Homo sapiens: one gene and its partner. The protein of the gene in region 1 interacts with the protein of each later gene in a pairwise test. Each region holds a gene or a part of one and is shown in the gene's direction. Other genes may lie near its edges.

Region 1 (7,024 bases):
CTATAGCCCAGCCAAGTTGACACTCAAAACTGACCATCTCCCCACCTCAGACCCCATGATTTAGCACCTCCCCTGCTGTCTGGTTAGCTTATCCTGATGTGCCCCTGTGTTTGTTTATTCATTCAATAAACATTTATCAAGTATTTACTAGATGCCAAGCCCTTTTTCCCTAAGCATAGAGGATATGCAGATGAATAAAATACCAGGACTAGTAATAATAGTAATGAAAGTAATTGCAGATAACGTTTATTGAGCACTTACTGTGTGCCAGGCATTGTGCGAGGCACATTACATGTGGTAGTTTTCTTACTAACTAACTCTGTGAGGTAGGTCCAGAGAAGATAAGTCATTTGTTCATGGCCACATGTGAAGGGGCAGGACCAGGATTCCGTTTGAGTCAGCCCGACTCTAAAGCCCGGGCACATAACTACATAACTGCATAGAAGCTGAGGGCCCAAAGCTGAATACTGATGGGTTGAGGGGAGAACTAGAGGCTGTAGATGCCTGGTTTTGAGCCGTGTGGATGAAGAGTGAAGGGAGAAGACTGCAGTTGGCTTAGGAAGTAAACATAGCAGCTGTAGGGTGGGTCAGGCATATAAGCCTAGACCCCAGGTATGGGCGTGAGGGGAAGGTATGTAGACAGAGGGACGGTGATGGAGCAAGGCCCTGTGGGACTCAGGGAGAATGGGACCTAGAGCACCAGGAAGGGTTTGGCCTTGAACAAGGGGAGCTATTCCCTGATTTTCATGCTGGTGGAAAGGCCACAGCATGGGTATAGTGGTAGGTAGGAGTGAGCCGTGGAGGGAGAGTATCTGATGGTCCACTTTCACCCTCCCTACAATTCCCAGTTTATATCAGGGACTTGAGCATCCATGGATTTTGGTATCCACAGGGGGTCCTGGAACCAATCCCCCACAGATACTGAGGGACAACTATACAAGGACTAGGACTGCATTGGGCCTGAATTACAGAAAGTAAGTCTTTCATATATTCACACTCTAGGCATTCCTGCCCTTGGAAGAAACAACATACCAGGAGCTGAGCTCCCTCCTCCTGTGATGCAAGAACAGTACCTATGTTGGTGAGGGGGTGGTCTGGAGTAGGCTCATACAGAGATGGGAAGGAGGAGTTGAGGGTCTGCCAGGAAGCCCTGTGTTGGGAGGGAAGGGATGGCATTTTTGGGACACATTGAAGCCTAGAGGCAGGAAACACTCCATCAGCTGAGTGGACTGTGGCGATTCAGATCCGACGGGAGCACAAGGTGGAAAGGAAGGAACTGTGGGAGTTGAGAAGAGAGGGAGCCTCTACAGAGGGATTGGGGCAAATAGGGGCCACGTCCTCAGCCCACAGAGCATGTGCTGAAGTGCCCCAGGCACCCCAGTGCACTCACAGGGCACCAGGGGATAGTGGACATTTTGAGGAAAACAGTAATACCTGACATTTGTTGGGACACCATACAAACTACTAGCTTGAAATAGTTTACAGGTTTATTTTTAGGCCACACTGCATTCCTTTCAGTGACGTCGTATCTTTAAGAAGCTGGGTTTTCAGCAGTTGCTGTGAAAACAAAAAAGGCTAATGCTGTGTGAAAATCCGGGTGAAGAACAGGTAACGAGTGGGAGCACCTTGTCTGATTCCAAGGCGTGGGAAATGGTGAGCTACCTGACAGGCACACGCATCCCACTGGGAATTAGTTTTGGTTATTTAAGAATAATATTAACATTTTTCTTTAGATTTATATGAATTATTTTTTCTAGTGGCTACTTAGAAATACTTACTAAGTTAGATGTAATTACTTAAATCAGTGCAACTGTTGGCATTCCCAGCCACATTAGGGATTTCTTTTGGCCTAGAGGTCTATGGAGGAATTACTAAATTCCCCATGTACCTATGTACTGAGAACTTTTGGGAAGCTCTGGGCCTGGTCCCAGATTTCAATTTTGTGGGCAAGAATGTACTTTACCAGAGTGAGGAGCAGCCTGCAGGGCGTTTGGGCTGGAGGCGGGAGGTTAGTAAGGGGTTGCTGAAGTGGTAGGCGGATGGTGCCGAAGAAGGCCTCACTAGGCAGTCATCATCAGGATAGGAAGTGGGCACGGGATTCAGGAGAAATCTGGACTTTACAGTGGACAGGATGTGGTGACTGAACGTGACAGTGTGGGAAAAAGAATGCAGGGTGATTCCCGGGCTCATGGCTTGAGAAATGAGACCACTGTTGTGCCTCCAAGTGACATGGGAGGCTATAGAAAGTGACATGGGAGGCTATAGAAAGTGACATGGGAGGCCATAGAAAGTGACATGGGAGGCCATAGAAAGTGACATGGGAGGCCATAGAAAGTGACAAGGGAGGCCATAGAAAGTGACATGGGAGGCCATAGTGACATGGGAGGCCATAGAAAGTGACATGGGAGGCTATAGAAAGTGACATGGGAGGCTATAGAAAGTGACATGGGAGGCCATAGAAAGTGACATGGGAGGCCATAGAAAGTGACATGGGAGGCCATAGTGACATGGGAGGCCATAGAAAGTGACATGGGAGGCTATAGAAAGAGGAGATACAAGGTTCTAAGTGCAGGCGATAATGATCTCTATTTGGGACTGGCTTCATTTGAGGTGCCTTTAGGAGAGCCGAGTGGCCTATGCACAGCTGGGTCTGCTATGCAGCAGGAAGGCTAAGTTGGAGACAGATGTGAGAACTAACCATGAAGGAGGTAATAATGCAGACCAAGGGTCTGGTTGAAATTTCTTCTCCCCCAGTCCAGGGTGCAGCGGGTGAGTGAAAATATGTGTGTTTGTGTGTCTGTCTTCCTAGTCGGGAGAGAAGACTGAGTTTGTGGCTCTGCGGAGCATCACCATTTAAGGAGGGGGAAAAGGAGACAGAAGGAATTACCAGAACACTCCAGAGGGCTCCAAGACTGTATGGTGGGATCTAGATGGCCAGGAGGAGGGGAGCAAAAAGGAAAGAGTCATCCACAGTATCAGTAGGATGCCAGTTGAAGTGTTTTTGCTGCCTCCCGGTTATCGGTGACTTTGATGAAAGCTGTCTTCTGGTGGTCATGGGGGTGGAGGCCAGATCACAAGGAAGCTGGGAATGGTAGATGAGATAGTAGGGGCTTGCATATTCATTACTGTCTCGCAGAGAGAAACCTGAGGCTAAGAGGGGTCTTGGATCAAAGGATGGGGTGGGTTTATCTGGTTTCGGGGCTTTTGTTTTTAATGAGAAGGAGTCATTTCTGTGCTGCTAGGAGGGATCAATGGAATAGGTGGGGTTAAAGATACAGTACGGAATCTACAGTTGATGGCTTGATGTGACAAGGTCCTCAAGGAGCCTGAAAGGAAGGGGTGGGGTCCAAGGGCAAAACCGAGGTATGAGAAGAAGGATGCACAAGGATGGTTTCGAGTAGACAGTATTGTTGGTAGGGACATGAAGGAAGTTTAGTGGTCTATTGCAGCTAGCCTGTGTTCCCAGTGAACCTGGAAACAAGGTTCTCATCTGTGCTCAGGCCTCAGGCCAGAAAGGGCAAGGCAGCAGAGGGGCAAGGCAGCAGGCTGAGCCCCATTTCCCCTTGCCATAATACTGCTGTGCCCCTCTGGTACCGAAAATCAGGAGTTTCCAGTGCAATATAATATTATACAAGTTACACTGTATTATAATGTGTATTGTCTTTTAGTGTGTTAACCAAATTACTGCAGTATTAAATGCAAATTATACTTTGTTTAACTGATTCTTCTCTTCATTTTTAGTTAGAAATCCTGTGTTCTGTCAACATTCTCCAGTTTATATTCATTGCCTTAAGACTGGACAAGATCATCCACTGGCCCTGGCTTGTATGTAACTTTTAAAATCCTTAAATAAAGTTCTTTTTTATTATAAAAGTAATTCATATTCACTGTACAAAGCTTGGAAAAGACGGACAAGCAGAAGTAATAGCCTAATAGTCACCCATAATCCCACCATGGGGAGATAACATGGTTAGTGTTTTTATGTCTGTGTTTTATACAAACAGTTTGGATATAACTGTGTGCACCATTTTGTATCCTGATTTTTTTGTTTTAATGTTGTATCATAAACATTTTATCATGTTAATAAAAGGTCTTTATAAACATGACTTCTAAAGTTTAATTGATACAAAATATTCTTCAAGTGCATGTATCAGACCATCCTCTTATTTCTAAAATATGGTATTTCCATTGTTGCCAGTGTTGAATGATTTTAAATCATACTGCAGTATATATGTTTATGCATTAAAATTTTTGCCTTTTGTTTTTTGGTTGTTTTCTTAGGAAATAGTCCAGAAATAGTGTTACTGAGCTAGAGGTTGGGAACTATTTGAGATTCCTATATACGTATACTGCACTGCCAACTTGCTTTTCCAAAAGCCATACCTGGCCAGGCGCAGTGGCTTACACTTACAGTCCCAGCACTTTGGGAGGCCGAGGTGAGCTGATCACTTGAGCTCAGGAGTTCGAGACCAACCTGTGCAATGTAGCAAGACCCTGTCTCAAAAGAAAAAAAAAAAAAGCCATACCCATTTACACTCTTGCTGGTGGTGGCATCTATGTCATGCTTCTAAACTGTGACTTCAGTTACTGGGCATTTGGTTGAAATTAACTGTGAATAAATGGGTAGATGGATGCAGAGATAGAAAGATAAGTGGCAAGGTAGAAATTAGAGAACACAGTATAGATTCCACTATTAAATGCATGGAAAAAAGATGGAGACTAAAGGCAGAAGAGTTCCATTGCCACTGGGAGGTAAGGTCATGCTAGTGTTTTTGTTCGGTTTTATTTTCTCTGTTGTTTGATGTATAATTTTGCATACAATATATTTTATGTATTAAATATAGCTACCCTTAAAAAGTGAAAAGTATAGTAAAGAATTGGGAGCAGAGAAGAAATGAAGGGAACCTAAGTATACTCCATATTTAAAGATGGGAATAATCACTTCTGCCCAAAGTCTTTGATAAAACATTCATAATAAAAAATATTCAGTCACTCATCCTACAACTTCACAGTGCTGTATCTGGAGAATGGTCATTGGGTTCAAAACTGTTTCTGTTGTGACGTGAAGGAAACATATCTAAACAAGACCAAATTTTTTCGTATAAGATACTGTCAGGGAAAAAAAAGATTAGTAATTTTGAGAGCTTTCCACAAATGAGAAGAAAGATTTTTTCTGCCCTTCATCCTCTGTAGATCCCAGTTGATGAAGCAGTCTGAGTACATGTTTCCCATAGTGAGCAAGAGAAAACAAGGAAGCCTATTGAGATCTAACATTCCACCCATGAAGGGAACTTCAGTAAAAAGGAGAATCTCATCACAGAATGGGGAACGGGGAAGAAAGGCTGTGCATAGACTCTGCAGAGAAACCTACAATCAAGAACTGGTCAGGAGAAGTAAAATTCGTATGCCAACTCAAATCATAGATCTAAAAGAAAATGTAAAACTATAGATCTGTTAGGAAATAACATAGGACAGAATCTTTGGGGTTTGCAATTAGGCAGAGAGTACTTAGAAATGGCACTGTTAATATGGTCCATACGAGAGAGAAATCATAAATTTGGACTTCCTCAAAATTAAAATGAAATGAAGACAGGCCACAGACTGGGAGAAAATATTTGCAAAGCACACATCAAAACACTGACTTGCACCCAGAACATACAGAGAACTCTTAAAAACTCAAAACTGCAAAAAGAAACACCTAAAAATTGGCAAAAGAGTTGACAATTTGCGAAGGGGATATACACATGGCGAAAAAGCACAGGAAAAGATGCTCAACGCCATTACAGGTTAGGGAAGACAAACTACAACCAGGATGAGGGCCCGAAACACATGGCTTCAGAATGGTGAAACTCAGCAACACTGACGAGGCCACGTGCCTGGGAGGATGCAGAGGAACTGGGACACTCCAGTGTTACTGGCGGGAAGGCAGGTGGTACGGGCACTGTAGAAAATGGTTTGGCCATCTCTGATGCAGTTAAAAGCGCACTTCCCGTGGGACTTGGCTGCCCCACTCCTGGGTATAAGATTTACCCCCAGAGAAGTGAAAGCGCGCAGCCTTGTAGAAACCCACACACCAGTGTTTGTAGCAGTCTTGTTTGCATTTTGGATAGCGGCCTTGTTTGGTTTTCACAAACCACCCTCAGCGGACAGTCAGATAAACTGTAGGCATCCATACAATGGAATACCACTCAGATCTGAGAGGGAACGACCTGTGGATACAGGGAGGGAACAACTTGGATGAATCTCATTAGAGACATTATGTGGATGGCGGGAAGCCAGTCTCAACAGGTTACTTGTCTCGCGATGCCATCTACATAAAGTTCCAGCAGAGACAAAAGTACAGTGAGAGAACAGATCAGTGTTTGCCGGGGCTAATGGTGGGGACGGTGTGATAGTGAAGGGACAGCACGGAGAGTTTTGCAGGGTGACAGACCTCTTCTGCATCCTGCCAACGGCTGTGTGAATCTACTTGTGTGAAGACTCAGGGAACTCACACCAAAGGAAGACGGTCACTTTTCCTACTGTATGATAGATAATTAATAAAAAGGGAGAACGGAGGAGTGTCGTCCCAGGAGGCAGGGCAGGAGGGCGAAGACGTGTCACAGGGGAGCCTGGCCAAGTGGCGCCCCCGGAACTCGTCCTCTGGGCTTGTGTGTGGATGAGACAAGGTCTACCTGGTACGACAGGGACATACTGGGAATGCGCCCTTGCCGTGGAGGCGGGGACCCGGCAGCGCTACGTATCCAGCATCAACCTGTATCCAGCATCAACCCGCCAAGTTCACTAACTTGGTAGGGGTGAGGTTAGGGATCCTTAGGAGCCCAGGCAGCCAGACTTTCTGGGGAGCCCATTCCCATTTGTGTTGCCAAAGTACCCCCAGCAGGTTGTGGGAATGTTGCCTGTGAAGAGAGTCTGTTGGGGTGAGATCTTGTGTGTGTGCACAGGGTGACAGTTGTGTCCCATTTCCCGGGAAGCTGTGATGGCAGCAGAACCTAGAGGAGCCTGAGAGAGTGTGGGAGAGTGG
Region 2 (7,714 bases), on another chromosome or scaffold:
TTTAGCATTTTTTGTAAGGCAGGTTTAATGGTGTTGAAATCCCACAGCTTTTATTTGTCTGGTGATATGATTTGTTCCTGAACTTCCACCCAAATCTCATCTCGAATTGCAATCCCCAGGTGTCAAAGGAGGGACCTGTTGGGAGATGATTGGATCACGAGGTGTTTTCCCCCATTATGTTCTCATGATAGTGAGGGTGTTCTCATGAGATCTGATGGTTTAAAAGTGGTGGTTACCCGTGCGCACATGCTCTCTCTCTCTCCTGCTGCCTTGTGAAGAAGGTACCTGCTTCCCCTTCACCTTCCACCATAATTGTAAGTTTCCTGAGGCCTCCCCAGCCATGAGGAACTGTGAGTCATTTAGACCTCTTTTGTTTATAAATTACCCAGTCTCAGGTGATATCTTTTAGCAGTGTGAAAATAAACAATACAGAGAATTGGTACTGGCAGAGTGAGGTACTGCTATAAAGACAACCTGAAAATGTGAAGGCAACTTTGAAACTGGGTAACAGGCAGAGGTTGGAACAGTTTGGAGGGCTTAGAAGATAGGAAGATGTGGGAAAGTTTGAAACTTCCTAGAGACTTGTTGAATGGTTTTGACCAAAATGCTGATAGTCGTATTGACAATGAAGTCCAGGCTGAGATGGTCTCAGATGGAGACGAGAAACTATTGGGAACTGGAGCAAAGGCCATTCTTGCTATGCTTTAGCAGAGACTGGCAGCATTTTGCCCCTGCCCTAGAGATCTGTGGAGCTTTGAACTTGAGAGAGATGATTTAGGGTATCTGTCAGAATAAATTTCTAAGCAGAAAAGCATTCAAATATAACCTGGCTTTTTCTGAAAGCATACAGTCAAGTCATATGCGTTCACAAAGAGATGGTATGAAATTGGAACTTATGTTTAAAAGGGAAGCAAAGCATAAAAGTTTGGAAATTTTGCAGCCTGACCATGTGGTAGAAAAGAAAAACCAATTTTCTGAGGAGGAATTCAAGCCGGCTGCAGAAATTTACATAAGTAATCAGGAGCTGAATGTTAATTGCCAAACAATGGGGAAATGTCTCCAGGGCATTTCAGAGGTCTTCAAGGCAGCCCCTCCCATTACAAGCCCAGAGGCCTAGGAGGGAAAAATGGTTTCATGGGCCCTGCTGCTCTGTGCAGCCTTGGGACTTGGTGCCCTGTGCCCCAGCCACTCCAGCTCCAGCTGTGACTAAAAGGGTCCATAGCTCAGGCTGTCGCTTCAAGGGTGCAAGCCCCAAGCCTTGGTGGCTTCCACGTGCTCTTGGGTCTGCGAGTTCACAGAAAACAAGAGCTGAGCTTTGAGAGCCTCTGCCTAGATTTCACAGGATGTGTGGAAACACCTGGCTGTCCAGGCAGAAGCCTGCTGCAGGGACCCAGCCCTCATGGAGAACCTCTATTAGGGCAGTGCAGAGGTGAACTGTGGGGTTGGAGCCCACACACAGAGACCCCACTGGAGCACTGCCCAGTGGAGCTGTGAAAAGAGTTCCCCCATCTTCCAGATGCCAGAATGGTAGATCCACTGACTGGAAAGTTGCAGGCACTCAGTGCCGGCCCATGAAGGCAGCCGTAGGGGCTGTACCCTGCAAAGCCACAGGGACAGAGCTGCCCAAGGCCTTAACAGCCCACACCTTGCATCAGCATGCCCTGGGTGTGAGACAGGGGCTCCAAGGAGATTATTTTGGAGCTTTAAAATTTAATGACTTCCCTGCTAGGTTTTGCATATGCTTGGGACCTGTGGCCCCTTTATTTTGGCCAATTTCTCCCATTTGGAATGGGAACATTTACCCAATTCCTGTACCCACATTGTGTTTTGGAAGTAACTAACTTGTTTTTTATTTTAAAGGCTCATTGAGGGAAGGGACTTGCCTTGTCTCAAATGAGACTTTGGACTCGGACTTTTGGGTTACTGTGGAATGAGTTAAGACTTTGGGGGACTGTTGGAAAGACATCATTGGTTTTGAAATCTGAAAAGGACATGAGATTTGGGAAAGGCCAGGGGAAGAATGATATGGTTTGGCTCTGTGTCCTCATCCAAATCTCGTCTTGAATTGTAATCCCCACATGGGATTACATGGGAGGGGCCTGGTGAGAGGTGATTGGATCATGGAGGTGGTTTCCCCTGTGCTGTGATCTCATGATAGTGAGGGATTTAAAAGTGACAGTTTCCCCTGCACATACACACTCTCTCTCTCGTATCACCTTGTGAAGAAGGTGTCTGCTTCCCCTCTGCCTTCCATCGTGATTATAAGTTTCCTGAGGCCTCCCCAGCCATGGGTAACTGTGAGTCAGTTAAACCTCTTTTGTTTATAAATTACCCAGTCTCAGGTAGTATCTTTACAGCAGTGTGAAACTGGACTAATACATCTGGGAAATTCTTTTTGTCTCCTTCCTTTCTGAAGGACAGCTTTGCCTGATATTATATTCTTGGTTGCCAGGTTTTGTACTTTCAATACTTTGAATATATCATCCCACTCTCTCTTGGCCTACATGATTTCTGCTGAGAAATCCACCAATAATCTTATGAAGCTTCCCTTGTATGTGAAGAATTGCTTTTCTCTTGCTTCTTTGAAAATTCTCTCTTTGTCATGGTGAGGATTTCTTTTTTTTTTTTTTTTTTTTAGATGGAGTCTAGCTCTGTTGTCCAGGCTGGAGTGCAGTGTGCAGTGGCGCAATCTCGGCTCACTGCAAGCTCCGTCTCCTGGGTTCACACCATTTTCCTGTCTCAGCCTCTGGAGTAGCTGAGACTACAGGTGCCCACCACCACGCCTGGCTAAATTTTTTTTGTATTTTTAGTAGAGATGGGGTTTCACTGTGTTAGCCAGGATGGTCTCGATCTCCTGACCTCATGATCCACCCATCTTGGCCTCCCAAAGTGCTGGGATTACAGGCATGAGCCACTGCACCTGGCCGAGGATCTCTTTATATTTAATCTATTTGGAGTTCTTTTGGGCTTCATAAATCTGGATGTTTATTTCATTTATGTCTCCAAATTTTGAGAGTTTTCTATTCTTATTTTTTTAAATAAGTTTCTGCAACTTTCTCTTTCTCTACTTCTTCTGGAACTCTTCTAATGCATATTAATTTTCTTAACAGTGTCCTATAAGTCTTGTCAGCTTTCTGCAATTTTTATCATTCCTTTTATTACTCTGACTGGGTAATTTCAAATGACCTGTATCTGAGCATGCTGATTCTTTCTCCTGCTTGATCTAGTCTGCTGCTGAAGCTGTTTGTGAATTTTTTCAATTCAGTCATTTTGTTCTTTAGCTCCAGAATTTCTGTTTCATTCTTTTTTATGGTTCCTATCTATCTTTTTGTTGAACTTCTAATTTTGCTCATGTATTGTTTTCCTGATTTTGTTTACTGTCTATCTATATTGTTTTGTAGCTTATTGAGCTTTCTTAAGGCAATTATTTTTAGCTCTTGTCATGCAGTAAAGATCTCCATTTCTTTAGGGTCACCTCCTGCTGCTTTATTTCCTTCCTTTGGTGGTTTCTTGTTTCCCCGATTATTTGTGATCAGTGTGGCCTTGCACTGAAGTAGGCACCTATTTCAGTCTTTACATACTAGCTTCAGCAGAGAAAGCCATTCACTAGTCAGATTGACCAGAGATTGTTGGTGGGCTGTCTGTTGGGGTCTATGCACAGGATTTCTGCTGGAGTTCTAAGGTGGGAAGGGCTGGATTCTGGGTTCATTCACTGTGGTTGTCTGTATTCTGTGCACAAGGACTGGCTTGAAGCATGGATCCTTGGGGGCTGACTTGGCACTGAAATGAGCCTTAAGCCTGCGTCTGCAGGGGCCAGCCTAACATGGGGATCACCTGGCACCTGAGTTCATGGGGATAGGCCTGTTCCTGAGTTTATTCAGGCTGTCCTGGGAACAAGGTCCACTGGGGTGAGCCCAGCATCTGGGTCCACATGGCCCAGCATGGAGCCAAGATCTCTGGAGGCTGACCTGGTGCTGGATCTGCAGGGGATGGCCTGGATTCTAGGCCCATGGGTGCCAACTTGGAGCCTGGGGTTGCTGGGGCTAACGTGGAGGCTAGATAGAGTCTTGGGGGCCAGGCTAGAGCTGGAGCAGGCCTGAAGTCTAGGTTTTGTGTGGCCATCTTGGAGCCTGAAGCCCCAGGGGCTGACCTGGTCTGGGGTGAGCATGGGGCTGAGGCCACAGAGGCTGGTCTGGCCTGTGGCAGGCCTGAATCCTGGTGCTGGGGTTTACTGGAGTGGGCTTGGTGCTTGGGATCTGTGGTGAAGTTAGGTTCTATCTTAACTGTCCCTCCTCCATGCAAGAGGGCATCTCTCTCCATACTGTGCTGCCCAGGCTTGAAGGTGAGATGACACCGGTAATGTGAAATTGTCCTTCCTATACACTTCTATGTGTCTTTTCTTATTTCTGTGCTGCAACCAGGTGGCATAACCTCTCACCTGATTCCTTAGCTCTAGTGAAGTTATTTTCGTGCATGGATACTTGTTCGAATTGATGTTTCTGCAAGGGATGAGCGCTAGAAACTCCTGTTCTGACAAACTCCTATTCCTATTCTTGCTGACATCACTCCCTGAAATAGTTAATATACTTAACAGCTGAACACGGATAGGATGTTCATGGAATATGTTGACAGGACAAAAAGTTGAAACTGTTGGCAGAAACCCAAAGTCAATATTGAAGCCAAGCAAAATATTGCCTGCAGTGCCACATTAGAACAGCTTGAAGACCGTTCATTTTTAAGTGACAAGAGACTCACCTCCAAGAAGCAATTGTGTTTTCAGGTAGCAAATTTTTATTATTCTGATTGTTTCCAAATAAACTATAATTTTTAAGTATAATTTTTTACTTTATGAGAAAATTAATCATTTATATTCTAATTTCCTGAGTATGTAGAGAGTATAGATAATGTTCCTTTATGTAGAAATATTTAAATGTAAGATGATTTTAAATCAGAAAGAATATTTGATTGATTTAAAATTTTTAAATGGGCTTTAATATTTTCAGAGGTTTTCTTTACTTAGGGATTTTTGGACTGACATTATTGCCATTATTTATTAATTTTGTTTTTGCCCAAATCAAGAGGTTTCATAATTGTTTACTCTCTCTCTACCAATTCCCTTTCCAACATTACTAGCCACAGAGTTGGCCAATGAACAATAAACACAACAGTAGTCTGGAGGTCTCAATTTGTATCTTGGGAAGCATTATAAATTTTCCAACTCCCTAGACACAAATGTACCAAAAAAAAACCCTTGTTTTCTATACCAGTAATTGTGTGCTTTGTCTTGCAATTCAGACATTTACAAGAAAATCTAAATCACCTTAAATTAAGATTTATGTTAAATGTGGTCTAAAACCAGCAGAGTTATGTATTGTTTTCTTTTTTAGAATGATTTTATTCAAGCAAGCAACTTATTTCATTTCCTTGTTTGCTACAGTTTCCTGTGGTAAGTGAATTATCTATAAAACATGGAATTCAGGCTAAGACAGGAGTAGCCAAGCAAGTGGCACCACCCCTGGAGAAAGCTATTGAACATACAGCTTCGGGGGTGGAGATTGTCCCTGATGATTCAGGACACGTGTCTATTTAATGTTCCACAACAAGGACCACTTGTCAGGTATATTGCTGTAGACATATGTTGCAGACCAGAGGAAGGAGCTCAGAAGTAGGAATGTCTTGGGACTTGTGTTAACAAAAACTTCTGTTCGCAGATGACACTCTGCAAAGCAAAACTTGAAACAAAAAAAAATTAGTCCTCTATTTTTATTATCAACAGTAAAAAATTAAACTTTATCTGAAAATTCAAAAGAGTGCTAGGCATTTTATAGTGTCTGGGTCCAATCCAAGTATCTGTTAGGAACACCATACATAGTTTTACTCTGGACCGCTAGGGAACCATTTCAAAAATGAAAGTAACTGGTTTAAATTTAACTTAGCAAACCATGCATTTGGATAGTTCTAGGTGAATAGCTTTCAACACCAGATTTAGATCTCATTTCTCTATTAATTTCATTAATTTTTGGAGAATAAAAATGATTCTGGACATTTCATTAATCATTACAGAGGGAGTTTTCTCTGTGTCCCCACAAGGCATGATTCTGGGTCTATGGTGACTTAAGAGGGCCACACAACAATGAGTATTTAATTTTCCTCAGATGTATGGCTACAATAAACATCTATAGGTAAGGTTTACATTCATAAAGAGACCTTTTTTTTTCCAGGAAAAAAGACTTTTATTCCCCCTAAATCACAACTCCCCTGTGTCTGTCCCTCAACCCTGATTTCTCTTCTAAACCGTAATTTACAAACCCATGTGCAAACCCACTGAAAGGTGAGAAGGAGCATAAGCCAGAGACACTGGGAACCACAGCCAACTACAGGGGGTTTTTCATTTTTTTGTTTTGTTTTGTTTTTTGGCAAAATAAATCATGATTATGGCTAGGAAAATCAGGGATGTAAGTAAGCAAAAATTTAGAAACTACATATTGCATGTAGTCCCCAAATTCAGAAACAGTCATCGTTAAACATCTTTTATTTAGTCTTTCAGATATTTTTCTACATATACCTATTTGCACATTTCACAAAAAAGAGTTATTAACTGTGGACACTCTTTGACTTGCATTTTCCACTTATAGCTATCTTTTGGTGCAAATAAGTAATATATTTTGGAGCTTGCTATTCTTCTCTTTTTATGGTATTTTTGTGTGCACATTCTTATGCTCTTATTCAGTTATTTCTGTAGAATACAATTTTTGAAATAAAAATACTAGATTCAAAGGTGTGAATATTTTTGAAGGTTTTGTGGTGTGGTATCATGAAATTAGGTTTCAGAAAGTTTACTCCATAGTTGACTTTTTCTACCAGCTAATAAGAGTGCTCATTTACCCCACTTAGGCCAACTCTAACAGGCTTCTGTTGCTTTGCATCCTGACATATTTATCTTTCTGGAAACAGTGTCCTAATTTATTTCTGCAGAGCTACTGCCTCTCAGTTTTGGTCCATGTGGTTCTGGTGACCCTGATTCTTCTGCTGAACCAGAAAGTGCACACATCCTCCTGGCTGTGGTGACCCAATCAGAGCCAACGTCTTGCAATGAAGCTTTTCTTTAGACATCTAGAAATAAGACTCTTATGTTTTTTTTTTCCAATTTGACTTGAAACTTAAGACAATACACAGGCCTGAGTTGTTGGTACTATTTTGCTACTACGTGGAGCTTGAGAGTAATGGTAACACCAAGACTGGAGCAAGTGGAAGGAGACATATTGTCCACTGATGCTATCAGTTGAGCACAATGTGCAGTTACTTTTTAAGCCAGATTCACCATGGGCTTTTTGGCTCCTGAACCAATAGATTTCATTTGTTTTCAAGCCACTTTGTACTAGGTTTTCCATCATTTGCAATCAAAACCAGTATACAAACACTGGTTATTTAATTTTTCATTTTTGCTAATCTCAGGGATAAAATGGCTTCTAGTTGTTTTAACTTGGCTATATTTGTGATTCTTCCCATTTTCATATACTTACTAATCACTTCTATTTCTTTTGTAAATTATCTTTTCATATTTGTTATCTAATTCTTTAAAATTTGAGTACTTTAATTCTCATTATTGTTTGTGGAATTGTTAAACAAGACTGAATAATCTGCCCAAAGTCCATGGACATGGGGGCCCATGTAAAAGCTTTGAAAGCCACCATCATTATGAGATAAATTATAT

What was found. Proteins that work in one complex are often made in the same cells at the same time.
Region 2: the proteins of TMEM185A (region 1) and KLKB1 interact in binary tests that used the Homo sapiens proteins (3 or more experiments, as listed by UniProt).

What each region holds. Positions count from the first base shown.
Region 1 is NC_000023.11:149,600,788-149,607,811, reverse strand, and holds part of TMEM185A (transmembrane protein 185A), read left to right. Parts: intron 1-3,741; coding exon 3,742-3,825; coding exon of another isoform or gene 3,826-3,840; exon of another isoform or gene 3,841-4,106; intron 4,107-7,024.
Region 2 is NC_000004.12:186,222,808-186,230,521, forward strand, and holds the start of KLKB1 (plasma kallikrein isoform 1 preproprotein), read left to right. Parts: upstream 1-4,699; 5' UTR 4,700-4,780; intron 4,781-5,387; 5' UTR 5,388-5,388; coding exon 5,389-5,446; intron 5,447-6,063; exon of another isoform or gene 6,064-6,182; intron 6,183-7,714. UniProt on the Homo sapiens protein: Participates in the surface-dependent activation of blood coagulation. Activates, in a reciprocal reaction, coagulation factor XII/F12 after binding to negatively charged surfaces.